Linked DNA regions of Homo sapiens: region 1 is linked to region 2. Evidence: fine-mapped expression QTL. A gene starts in region 2. The other region holds a variant in brackets. All regions are shown on one strand. Distances are from middle to middle. Region 1 overlaps PUM3 (pumilio RNA binding family member 3). Region 2 holds the start of PUM3 (pumilio RNA binding family member 3).

Region 1 (5,377 bases), 40 kb before region 2:
CAGAAAAGAAAGTAAAACAAAACAACCAACCATAAAATTGAATATCACCAAGAAACATGAGATAATGCATACAAGCAATAAGAAAAGGACACTTTAATGAAAAGGCTGGGAGTGGCTAGGCATGGTAGCTCAGGCGTTCAGGACTAGCCTAGGCAACATGTCAAAACCCCGTCTCACAAAAAATGCAAAAATTAGCCAGGCATGGTGGTACATGCCTGTATTTCCTGACGCCTGACAGGCTGAGGTGGGAGGATCGCTTGAGCCAAGGAGGCAGAGGTTGCAGTGAGCTCAAGTTGCACAGCTGCCACTCCAGCCTAGGTGACAAGATCCTGTCTCAAAAAACAAACAAACAAACAAAAAACCCAAAACACAAAAGGCTGGCAGAGAAGGTAGAGAAAATATCTCACTCAGAAAGCAAAGCAAAAAAACAAAAATATTAAAAATAGGGAAAAGAAAGAAGATTAGAGGCTCAAATCATTTCAACTCTCAGTAATAGCTCCAAAGACAAAGAACAGAGAAAACACGGGGCAGGGGGTACATTAAAAAAATCAGAAAAAAAACCATGGAAAAACATCTCGCAGGATGAAAGGATCTGGCTCTTCCGACTAAAATGGTTCACCAAGTGCCTAGCATAAAGAAGGAAAAGAAAATATACATAACACTTTCCAATGCACACGATCCTGAAACACGAGAAAGCTGGAGACTTAAAGGCCGCATATGAAGATTGAGAATAAGGATGGCACTGGACATTAAACTTCTACAACTTTGCAATCTAAAGACAATATTGACGAGCATCTTCAAATTCTGAGGCAAAATTAATTTTAAACTAGAATTCTATGTCCAGCTAAACTAGACATCTGGGTTTGAGAGTAGAATAAAGACATTCGGACTTGCAAGGTCTTTAGAATGTATTCTTTCTCGGGAAGCTACTAGAGGATGTGCCGTGTTGAGAAAAGGGTGTTAAGCAAGAGAGATGCATGGGATCTGAGAAATGGACTTTTCATAGGAGAGAAACTAAGGGAAGGCAGACGATGATGATGGTGAAGGAGCAGCAGTTCTTCAGGACATCCCGAAAGCCAGGAGGGGTGTCTCCAGGAGAAGGTGGAAATGCTTGCCGACTTGACATGTTGGATACTGTGGAAATTGGTATTTAGAGACAGCCAGGTTAGCATACTTTTGGCTGCAAGTTGCAAAAGATCCAACTCAAAACTGACCTAAAATGAAAAACTGGGGTTTATTCTCTCACATAACCAGAAGTCCACGGCTAGCGCAGCTCCAGGAGTTAACTTATTCAACAGCTCAACATCATCAAAGTTCCAGACTCTTTTCACAAACCTTTGCTCAGCCATCCTCGGCATATTTGCTATTTCCTGTCAGGCTTCTAGCTTGCAGGCTGGGCCTAGTCCTGCACATACCAAAGCTGACGGGCAGGAAGGGGACTCTCTACAACCCAAGAGACCTAAGAAACCCTCCCAGGAATACCATCTCTCTTCCAACTTTCACTGGTCAGGCTCCTTCCTAAATCCGTCACTGATTTAAGAAATGGGCCCTCCGGACTCGGTCATACCAGTGCTCTTCTGCATAGGACACACAAGCGAATCAGGTGTACAGCCGGGTGGGGTAATGAATGAGGTTGTCAAAATCCCAACACATTCACAACCAACTAGAGAAACACTGAATTATATCAGTTAGGATATTTAAGCCACGTGGAAAGGAGCAGACACCAGAATAACACAGAAGCCTTGGTGGGCTAAAAAAAAAAAAGAGGAAAATGGCTGTTGAGTAATTGCTAAGGGTGCCTTCAAGAGAAGAATTTAAGCAATTCTGACGTAAAGTTTAGGAAAAATCAACAGAGATGTAGAAACTAAGCAAATGAAAATAAATGACTAATTCCAGAAAAATTAAAATAGTAGAGGAAATGTAATGGCTGCTCACTACTTGAATCAATATTTAACAACATTTATGTAGGTATAATAAGGTAAACCCTGAACACTGATTTCATCATACATGATGCAATTCTACTGGGAAGGGAGGGAAGAGGAGTGGGGAACAGTGATGGTAAAAGTTCTTAATCTGCATTTCCTGTAATAGGAAATCAAAAGAAAATACCTGCAACTGATAGATGTATTTAGACATTTAGCAGAGCGAAGAATAATCAGTAGTTCTGGGGAGGGTGAGGCAGGGGTGCAGAGGAATGGGGTAGATTGCTGCTTCTGCTATAAGCTTTATAAAAGTACTCCTCAAATTATGTACACATTATCTTAGTTTCAAAGATGAAACAAAGAGCAGGGGTTCTTTCCCCCTTTCTCTGAATGGCTTCTTTATACAGAGAACACAAATCACAATGTATTAGCCAAACAAATGCAAGCTCTACTGTTGCCTTTTCCCCATTCACCTCCTTATCCCATCCCAGTTCCTCCAGCTCTCCACCCACACCCTTATATTGGGTGATGTGAGAATCCATGTCAAAAGTTACAGCCATCAGCGCTTTTGCAGTCTGGGAAGGATTCAATACACCGTGGCAGGAGGGGTCCTGGTAGTCGGTAGGCTGGAGTAGTCCTGGGACCCCATGGTCTGGAAAGGAAAGGCACAGCCAATTCCTCAGCAGGTGTAACTGCAGTGACAGACCTGAGTGAGTACCCCGTTAGACTACTTTGAGAAAGCAGCCAGATACTCATAGGCATGACTACATGAGCCTGACTGAGCTACCAATCCTTCTAAGCTTTGTTTGCTCAAACAACTGCAGTTTTAAAATTCAAACATCCTAGCTGTAGTTAAACTTCTGCACGTAACAAATTTCCACCTTCTTCCTTCTTATTCAAACTCCATAGGCTTTGACATTTTAGGGACAGTCTCAAGGGAGAAAGTCTAATCACAAGGAGCTATTTACTTGGAAGGCCCAAAATCAGAGACAAGGAGAACTTCCCAGTGACCCTGACTTTAACACCGCAATCCACAGTGATCCCCTAATTCATTTAGCACATTTCCTCCTATGAGCTTAACTTACCTGAGTGGCTTTCAAACAAAATCTAGCATGGAACCTAATCCATAAAACAGCTAGGTAGGCAGCTGTGAACCCCCCACTGCCCCGGTACTCATTAAATTCCACTTTACTGTGCCCACGACTCCCCCTGGCTCTTCTTTTC[C/T]ACATCCTGCCTTCCTTTGACAGGATGAAAGTCCTCTCAAGTCCCACCTTCTCCAGGAAGCCTTCTCAGACTATGCTCACTGAAGATGTCTTCTCCCCTGAATCAACTCATTCAACTACACTTTATATATCTGGTTGGTCCCACCATATATGATTGGTAAACCTTCCACATTAATTGCCTCACACTGATATGCTTACTACTCAGTGTAACAGAGGAGACAGCTGAGATTTTTAAAAAAGACCATTTAAAAAAACAATTTATATAAATAGATTCGTATACAAAGAAGAAACACATATACAGAGTACCCCAATTACCAGTATGGTGGACCCTACCCCTTCTTTTCTGCATTGGGAAACAGAACAGAGAACAGAAAAAATCATTCCATCTTGCTCTTAACTCTTTCCACCTATGTGCTCAGTTTTTCAAGTAGAATTTCTATTCCTTTGCTGGTGCTTTTGGTTTTTTCCAATGTAGGAATCAAGCTTTTCAGTGCAGCTTTGACTTTGTTTGCAACTTCCAGGTCACAACTCTGGAGGAGGCTGAAGAGAGGAAAAAAATTAAATTTCATAAGCATTCCTAGATCATCTCCAATACTACCTGTACCAACAGTAAAAAAGACTTTGTTAACTGTGACACAAGCCTTGTAACTATATACACATTATTTTTCATTCAAAGGATGAATGATGAGACCAGTAGCCCATATTATAACACCACGGAAAAAAACGTTTTAGAATCTTGCTGGTGGAGTCACCCAAGCAAAGACATTTGTAGGACCAACATCATTCCATACAGAGTTGGTTCTACCTTCACATTATCTTAGGACTTACTTACATCCTGTCTTAAAATGATTCTACATGTATTCTATCTTCCCTTCCCCATCTCAGGACTATAAGCTCAAGAGCAGGGACCGTATTTTATTTATTTCATGATGCTACATTTACAGAGCAGACAGCCAAAATATGCCCACCACGTGGCTGAATGAAAAGGTGTGAACAGAGGCACAGAGAGGTCAGAGTTAGCAGGTCTTCTCACTGAACTCCACAGCACTAACATTGAGTGAAAGGGCGAAGGGCTTCACTGTGGAGCTTCACTGCTTGGGTGGGAAACCTGCCTCTACCACTCAGTAACTGTACAACCAAGAGCATGCTATGTAAACTCTCTTAAGACTCAGTTTCCCGAATTGTAGAATGGGATTCACAACAGAGTCCACCTTCCACCTCACAGAGTGGTTTTCTGAGGCTCAAATGGCCTTGTATCTAAAGCACCCAGCCAGAGCCTGACACTTAGTAAGCACTTAATAAATGTTAGCCATTCTACAAAATAAGCCCGGCCTCTGCGTTCTGAAACCCTGCCCGAGTACTCTATCAGAAGTGAAAGGAGCCATAGAGGCTGGTAACAGCAGGCCCATTTCTCTGTGGATAGGACCTACAGCTCTGACCGCAGAGTACCAGTCCTGAATTTCCTGTTCTCTTCTTTTTCGGGACCCTTTGTAAATACGGACCTCTGAAACACATTTTAGAAATGAGGTACTTGGTATTTTCCAAAGTCCCTGGTCCCAGTAACTTCCAATATGTCAACAAAGAGGAGGATAAATTATCAGCACCAAGCAATATTCTACTGCTTATGGGAGATAAGAAACAATTCAGCTTGCCACCTACGATGCTAAAAAGTAAAGTTCCCTCGTAATGAATTTGTGACTCACTAGGTGTTTTTATTTCATACATCTTGGCTAAACACACAGTTATACAACACATAATAGTAAGTTATTGCTTACTGAGCATATGCCACATATTAGACATAATGCTAGGCATTTTATATGCATCATCCAATCTAGTTTTCATAACGACCATAGGGTTATCATTAATCTCATTTTTTTTACCACCAAGAAAATTAAGGCCCAGAAAAGCTGAATAATTTTCCCAAGGCTATGCACTAAGCTAGAACCCAGGCAGTCTGTCAAGTGCCAATGCTCCCAAATGTTAGAGAATTCTGCTTCTCTGAGTTACTTTTCAGCCAACATACAAGGCTGATTTTCTTTTCACCCAAAATTTACAAAAACAATTTTTTTGTATTATTGTTATATATAGCTCAACTTCCATTTAGAACTTCAAATATTTCCTCTGCTCCTGTTCCAATTCTGAGTAGTGCTCCATAATAAACCTATAGTATCCTTCCTATGTTTGAAATCCACCTAATGGGAGTTCTGATTGATGAACAACCTTTATAAATTA
Region 2 (5,377 bases):
TAACTTATGCATATGCACATACCTATATTTATTTTTATATCTATTACAATAACTTGAAGCTCATACTGATGTTTCCAAATCTAATCAAGCACCACATATTTTCCTCCAGGCATCTCCTCTTGCTCATTTGTAACTTCCTTCTCTGACAGTGAGCAACCTGCTTCCCACCATCTACAATTTATTTATACACATATTCCACCCTACTATACATGCATAGTTTCAGAATTGCTAACCTGTACCCCGTGAGAAATAAATTTACAATGACAGTACAGTGTTGACGTACAATTCTTTTTTGTATCCATTCAAAATACTTTTCCAAAGTTACTTAGAGGCTTGCATGGTGGCTCACACCTGTAATCCCAGCACTTTGGGAGGCTGAGGCAGGTGGATTACCTGAGGTCAGGAGTTCAAGACCAAACCCCATCTCTACTAAAAATACAAAATTTAGCTGGGCATGGTGGTGTTGCAAACATGTAATCCCAGCTACTCAGGGGGCTGAGGCAGGAAAATCACCTGAACCCAGGAGGCAGAGGCTGCAGCGAGCTGAGATTGTGCCACTACACTCCAGCCTGGGCAACAGAGTGAGACTCTATTTCAAATGTTAAACTACCATAGCAATTAATAAACATTTCAGACAAGATGTTTGGAGAATATATGGACATCCTACCTCCTCTTAAGTTTTACTTGCTAACTTTAGCATTCAAGTCAGTGTATTCTGCCTGCAGCAATTACTGCTGCAGGCCAAAAAAAAAAAAAAAAGGTTCTTAGATCAGCCCTTCGGCCCCTCACCCTCTTTAGTGAAGTTACATGTTTATAATATAGTTTAACTGATTTGTCACAGCCTGCATTCCATCCCCAGAAATGCTGGCAGATTTATTAAATGTGCATATAGTCAAGTTTACTCTTTCTGGTGTATAATTCCACGGGCTTCAACAAATGGCTAAGACTCATGCATCCACTACCACAGTATCTTACAGAAAAGTCCTGTCACTCTAAAAAGTCCCCTGGTACAGCTCCTTTGTATTCAACTCCTTCCCTCTTTCCTGACTGCCAATGATTAGGTTTTCACTCCTGTTTTGTCTTTTCCAGAATGGCATTCTTATACATGGAATCATACAATATGTAACTTTTTGAGTCTTGCTTTTTGCACTGGGCAAAATGCAATTTGCTTTGCTTGGGAACCCTGTACCTTCGTAATGAATCATCACATTCAATAGTGTCTCTTGGAATTCGCCCCCCTTTTTCCTTTCCCTCTATTACCCCATTCAGGCTCCTGTTACCTCTTGCTCAGTTTTGTTTAGATCCTATCTGCTTTGATCCACTTTCCGCTGCCTGATTAACCTTCCAGTAGCACACCTATTTCATGTCATTTCCATGCTCCAATAGCTTCAAAGCTTTCCCACTGCCTTCAGGAAAAAGTTCCAACTCAGGCATTCACAGCCATTCAAAATGTGGTCTTAATTCACCCCACTCATCACCACCACACAGGAGCCACTATTCTTATCAGAATAGTGAAGTTTAAAGCCATTCTCTCTACCAACACAATTTCTACCCATCCTTCAAATTCAGTTTAAATGACATTTTCTTATAGACCAACCTCTACATGTTAGCATTCCTCAAATCTTTGCCCTAGGGAACTTCCCTTCTCTCTCCACACTTCTCCCTAGGTGGTCTCATCCAATCTCCTGGCTTTTTATGCTGAGTACTCCCAAATCATGTCTCCATTATGAACTTCTCCTTGGGGTCCAAACTTGTGTATAACTGCTTATCTGATACCTCTAATTATGTGTCTAACAGGAACCTTACCCTTAATATGTCCAAAACATAATTCTCTATGTTGTTCTTTATGTTATTGTTGTTTGCCCCACAAACAACAATATACTATTTTTCCCTGCCCTATCGTCCTCCATCTCAGCCAATGGCACATCATCTACTTTACTGCTCAAGTAAGAAATCTGAGTTACCCTTGACATTTTCCTCTCTACTCTGCCACGCTGAACCATAAGTTAGTTCTCTTAAATGTCCCTTACGTCACCACCCTAATGCAAACTATTACCAATACAATCTCTTGAGCTTCCAAATGTAATACATTTTCTAAAGAGAACCAGGGCCTATTCATGATTCTCACTTGCTTACAAGTCTTCAATGTTTTCTACACATGGTAATAGGAACGGAAATGTTTTCCTATTGTACAGAAAAAAAAATTCCCCATCATGACCTTCAAGGCCCTACAGAACCTAGTTCCACTCTATCCGGCTAACTTTATCTTGTACTCTAACTATACTCCTTCCTAGCTCCCATCTCAGGAACTTAGCCCATTATCGCCTCTGCTTGAAGTACTCCCTGAGCTTCCAAATCTCCGTTTAAAGATCACTTCTTCAGACTCCACTATCTGCCAACTCAGCATCCAGTTCGTTTCCTCCCAGCACTTAGAATCTGCGTACATTCAGGCAAACCGCCTAGCACTGGAGTTGGGGTTTGTGAAGTAGCACAGACAGGCTGATCAGGCCGAGCACGGGCTGGGATTCCGGAGTGAAGCTAGTCCACTCTAACCCGGCACGCAGGGCAACGTGGTGGGAGAGAGGTCGGAGTCCCGCCCTTCTTTTTTTTTTTTTTTTTTTTTTTGAGACGGAGTCTTGCTCTGTCTCCCAGGCTGGAGTGTAGTGGCACGATCTTGGCTCACTGCAAGCTCCGCCTCCCGGGTTCACGCCATTCTCCTGCCTCAGCCTCCCAAGTAGCTGGGACCACAGGCGCCCGCCACCATGCCCGGCTAATTTTTTGTAGTTTTAGTAGAGACGGGGTTTCACCGTGTTAGCCAGGATGGTCTCGATCTCCTGACCTTGTGATCCGCCCGCCTCGGCCTCCCAAAGTGCTGGGATTACAGGCGTGAGCCACCGCGCCCGGCCAGTCCCGCCCTTCTTGCCAGGCTCCAGTCAGTCCCAAACTCCTAGCCCAGAAAGAGGCCAGAGGAGACTGCCCAGTGGACAACAGCCCCGAGAGACCTTCCCGACTTCCAGCGCCCGGCAGGGTGCGAACCCCTCCCAAGAGCGACCGCTGAGCCTGCCACACTCACCGCACACGTGGGACCGAGACAGCTCGCGCAGCGGATCCCGACCGCCTCTCCGCTTCCGCTTCCTTGCCTTGCTCCGCCCCCGGGCCGCTTTTTTTCATCTTCCGCGGCGGATCAGGGACTAAGAGGTGGAGCTTCCCAGAGAATACAAAAATTCGGAATTTCTATTGGTCCGCTGCTGTTATGCCTCCTCTTGAGGCGCGAGGATTTTGGCCCTTGCAAGAATCCGTCGGGCGGAGGACGCGACAACGGCCACGGGAAATGACGTCATTAACCCTGTGGCTTCCGTGCTGGAAAGAGAGGGAGAGCTCTTGCGAGGCAGAACAGGCTGCTGAAGGACAGACCTGGCTGGCGCGGTTAATAAGAGGCCTGCATCCCGTAGCCTGAACAAATATTGAAGTAGCTAAAGTTTCTAAAGTGTGTTAATTTGCATACTTCCTCAGCAGTCCAGCGTGGAGGATAAAAGGGGTATCTTGTGAGTCGATTTGAATTGTAATCCCGTTTTTTTCACTTGCTAGCTGTGTGGCTCTGGGAAAATTACAGTTTTTATGAGCTTTGGCTTCCTGATCAATAAAATAGAAATAATTAAGTGATACGTGCAAAGCGCTTAGCATGGAACGCTCTCAATAAATGTTTGCCATTTTTAGTGTCTGCTCGTGCCTGGAAACTGCTGTTATTCCATTTTATACTTCAGGAAATAAGATTGTGGTTAGGATATATGCCCCATTTTCCAGATGAAGAAACTGACACCACAAACTTGCTCGTGTCAAGCAACAGAATTTTATTCTTTAACTGTTCTAGAGGCAAGAATTCCAAAATCAAGCTGTTGGCAGAGCCCTGCACCTTTTGAAGGCTCTAGGGGAGAATGCTTTGCTTCTTCAGCTTCTAACGGTTCCAGGCGGTCCGTGGCCTCTTGTTGCATGACTCCAATCTCGGCCTGTCTTCTAATGGCCTTCTCCTGTGCCTGTGCCACTTCTCTGTGTGTTTTTAGGACACTGAACATTGAATTTAGAGTCCACGGGGATAATCCAAGATCATCTCATCTGGAGGTCCTTAATCACATCTGCAAAGGCCCTTTTCCCAAATAAGGTCACTTTCACATGTCCTGGGAGTTAGGACATAGACATATCTTTTGGAGACTATTCAACCCACTGCATCTGTAAAGTTGAGGAACTGGCACTTGATCCCTGGTGCCAGACTTCAGATTTTACTGTCTTCCAACTTACTCCGTTTTCTGGCCACTAAGGAGTTAGAGTTGAAACTGGTAATTTAGTAGACTGTATGCTTCTTGATGACAGGGGCCATCATTACTTTCCAGGCACTTATCTCACTATGCAGCACATAGATACTTGATAAGTTCTTGTCGTCTACCTTAACTGTTACTAGTTTACATTTCAGCTCATTTAAATCTCATAAGAACGTTTTAAATAGGTCTTTTCTCATTTTACAGAGAAAGGCAAAACATAGTAGCTTTGGTCCAGTGAGCCTGACTCTAAACTCAACGTGGCTGCCTCCGTACTGCTTTCAATAATTCAGTAAATGCTAAGAGAAGAGAATATGGAACAGGAATTGCAGGAGGCCCATCAGCTGTGCCTTTTGGGCAAATAGCATAGTAGTGGGGATATTAGACACCTTGAAACACCTGACAAGTAAATGCTGGCCAAAAAGAAAGAAAAATCGCAAAATACACCCTATCACACAACCCTGGGAAGGGATACGTTTGTGTTTTCAACTCGACAGACAGCAGCACCCCATATCCTTGAAGATAGGTCCATGCAGTTGCCTTAAGCATCTGCACCAAAACCCTGCTATTCATTTGCCTTTTCACCAGGGAGGAAAAAAAAAATGTTATCACATATCAAAGCCCTTGATTATTATTAAAAACTTTTTTATCAAGTCTTCTGTGAAAGTGGATTGATTTGGATTTTTTTTTTTTTTTTGGAGTGAATTGAAAGCATCGTGTGGTTTTGCAGAACAGCACAAAAAAAGCTTATCCTGTAATTTTTTTTTTTGTCAAGCAAACCCATTAATTCTTCAAATATCTAATGATCTAAATGTAGACCACTAGGTGTACTCCTACAAGCCTAAGATGCTCTTCTTGCGTGATACACAATTTAATCAGAGCAACTAGACTTGCACACATCCAAGAGGTTAATAACAGTACTATAGCAATGCAATGACGAGCATTGAGATTAGAATCAAAGGAACCTGGCTTACAATCTAAATTCTGTATGGCCAAGGACAAGATAGCCAACTTGTATGGGCCTCAGTTTCTGCATATGTAAAATGGGAATAACAACACTTGTT

What was found. PIP is the estimated chance that this variant, and not a neighbour inherited with it, causes the effect.
Region 1: its variant is fine-mapped to the expression of PUM3 in whole blood (TOPMed, PIP 0.97).

Annotation. Positions count from the first base shown.
Region 1 is chr9:2,800,779-2,806,155 of GRCh38, forward strand. It overlaps PUM3 (pumilio RNA binding family member 3), which reads right to left. Exons shown (of 18, transcript NM_014878.5): 18 at 3,374-3,685. The coding sequence ends at 3,553. Among named protein-coding and RNA genes, the nearest start is that of PUM3, 41 kb to the right of the region's middle. The variant C/T (reference allele first, on the strand shown) is at 3,147.
Region 2 is chr9:2,840,972-2,846,348 of GRCh38, forward strand. It overlaps PUM3 (pumilio RNA binding family member 3), which reads right to left and starts at 3,124. Exons shown (of 18, transcript NM_014878.5): 1 at 3,074-3,124. RefSeq lists enhancers at 2,153-2,714, 3,098-3,392, 3,216-3,455.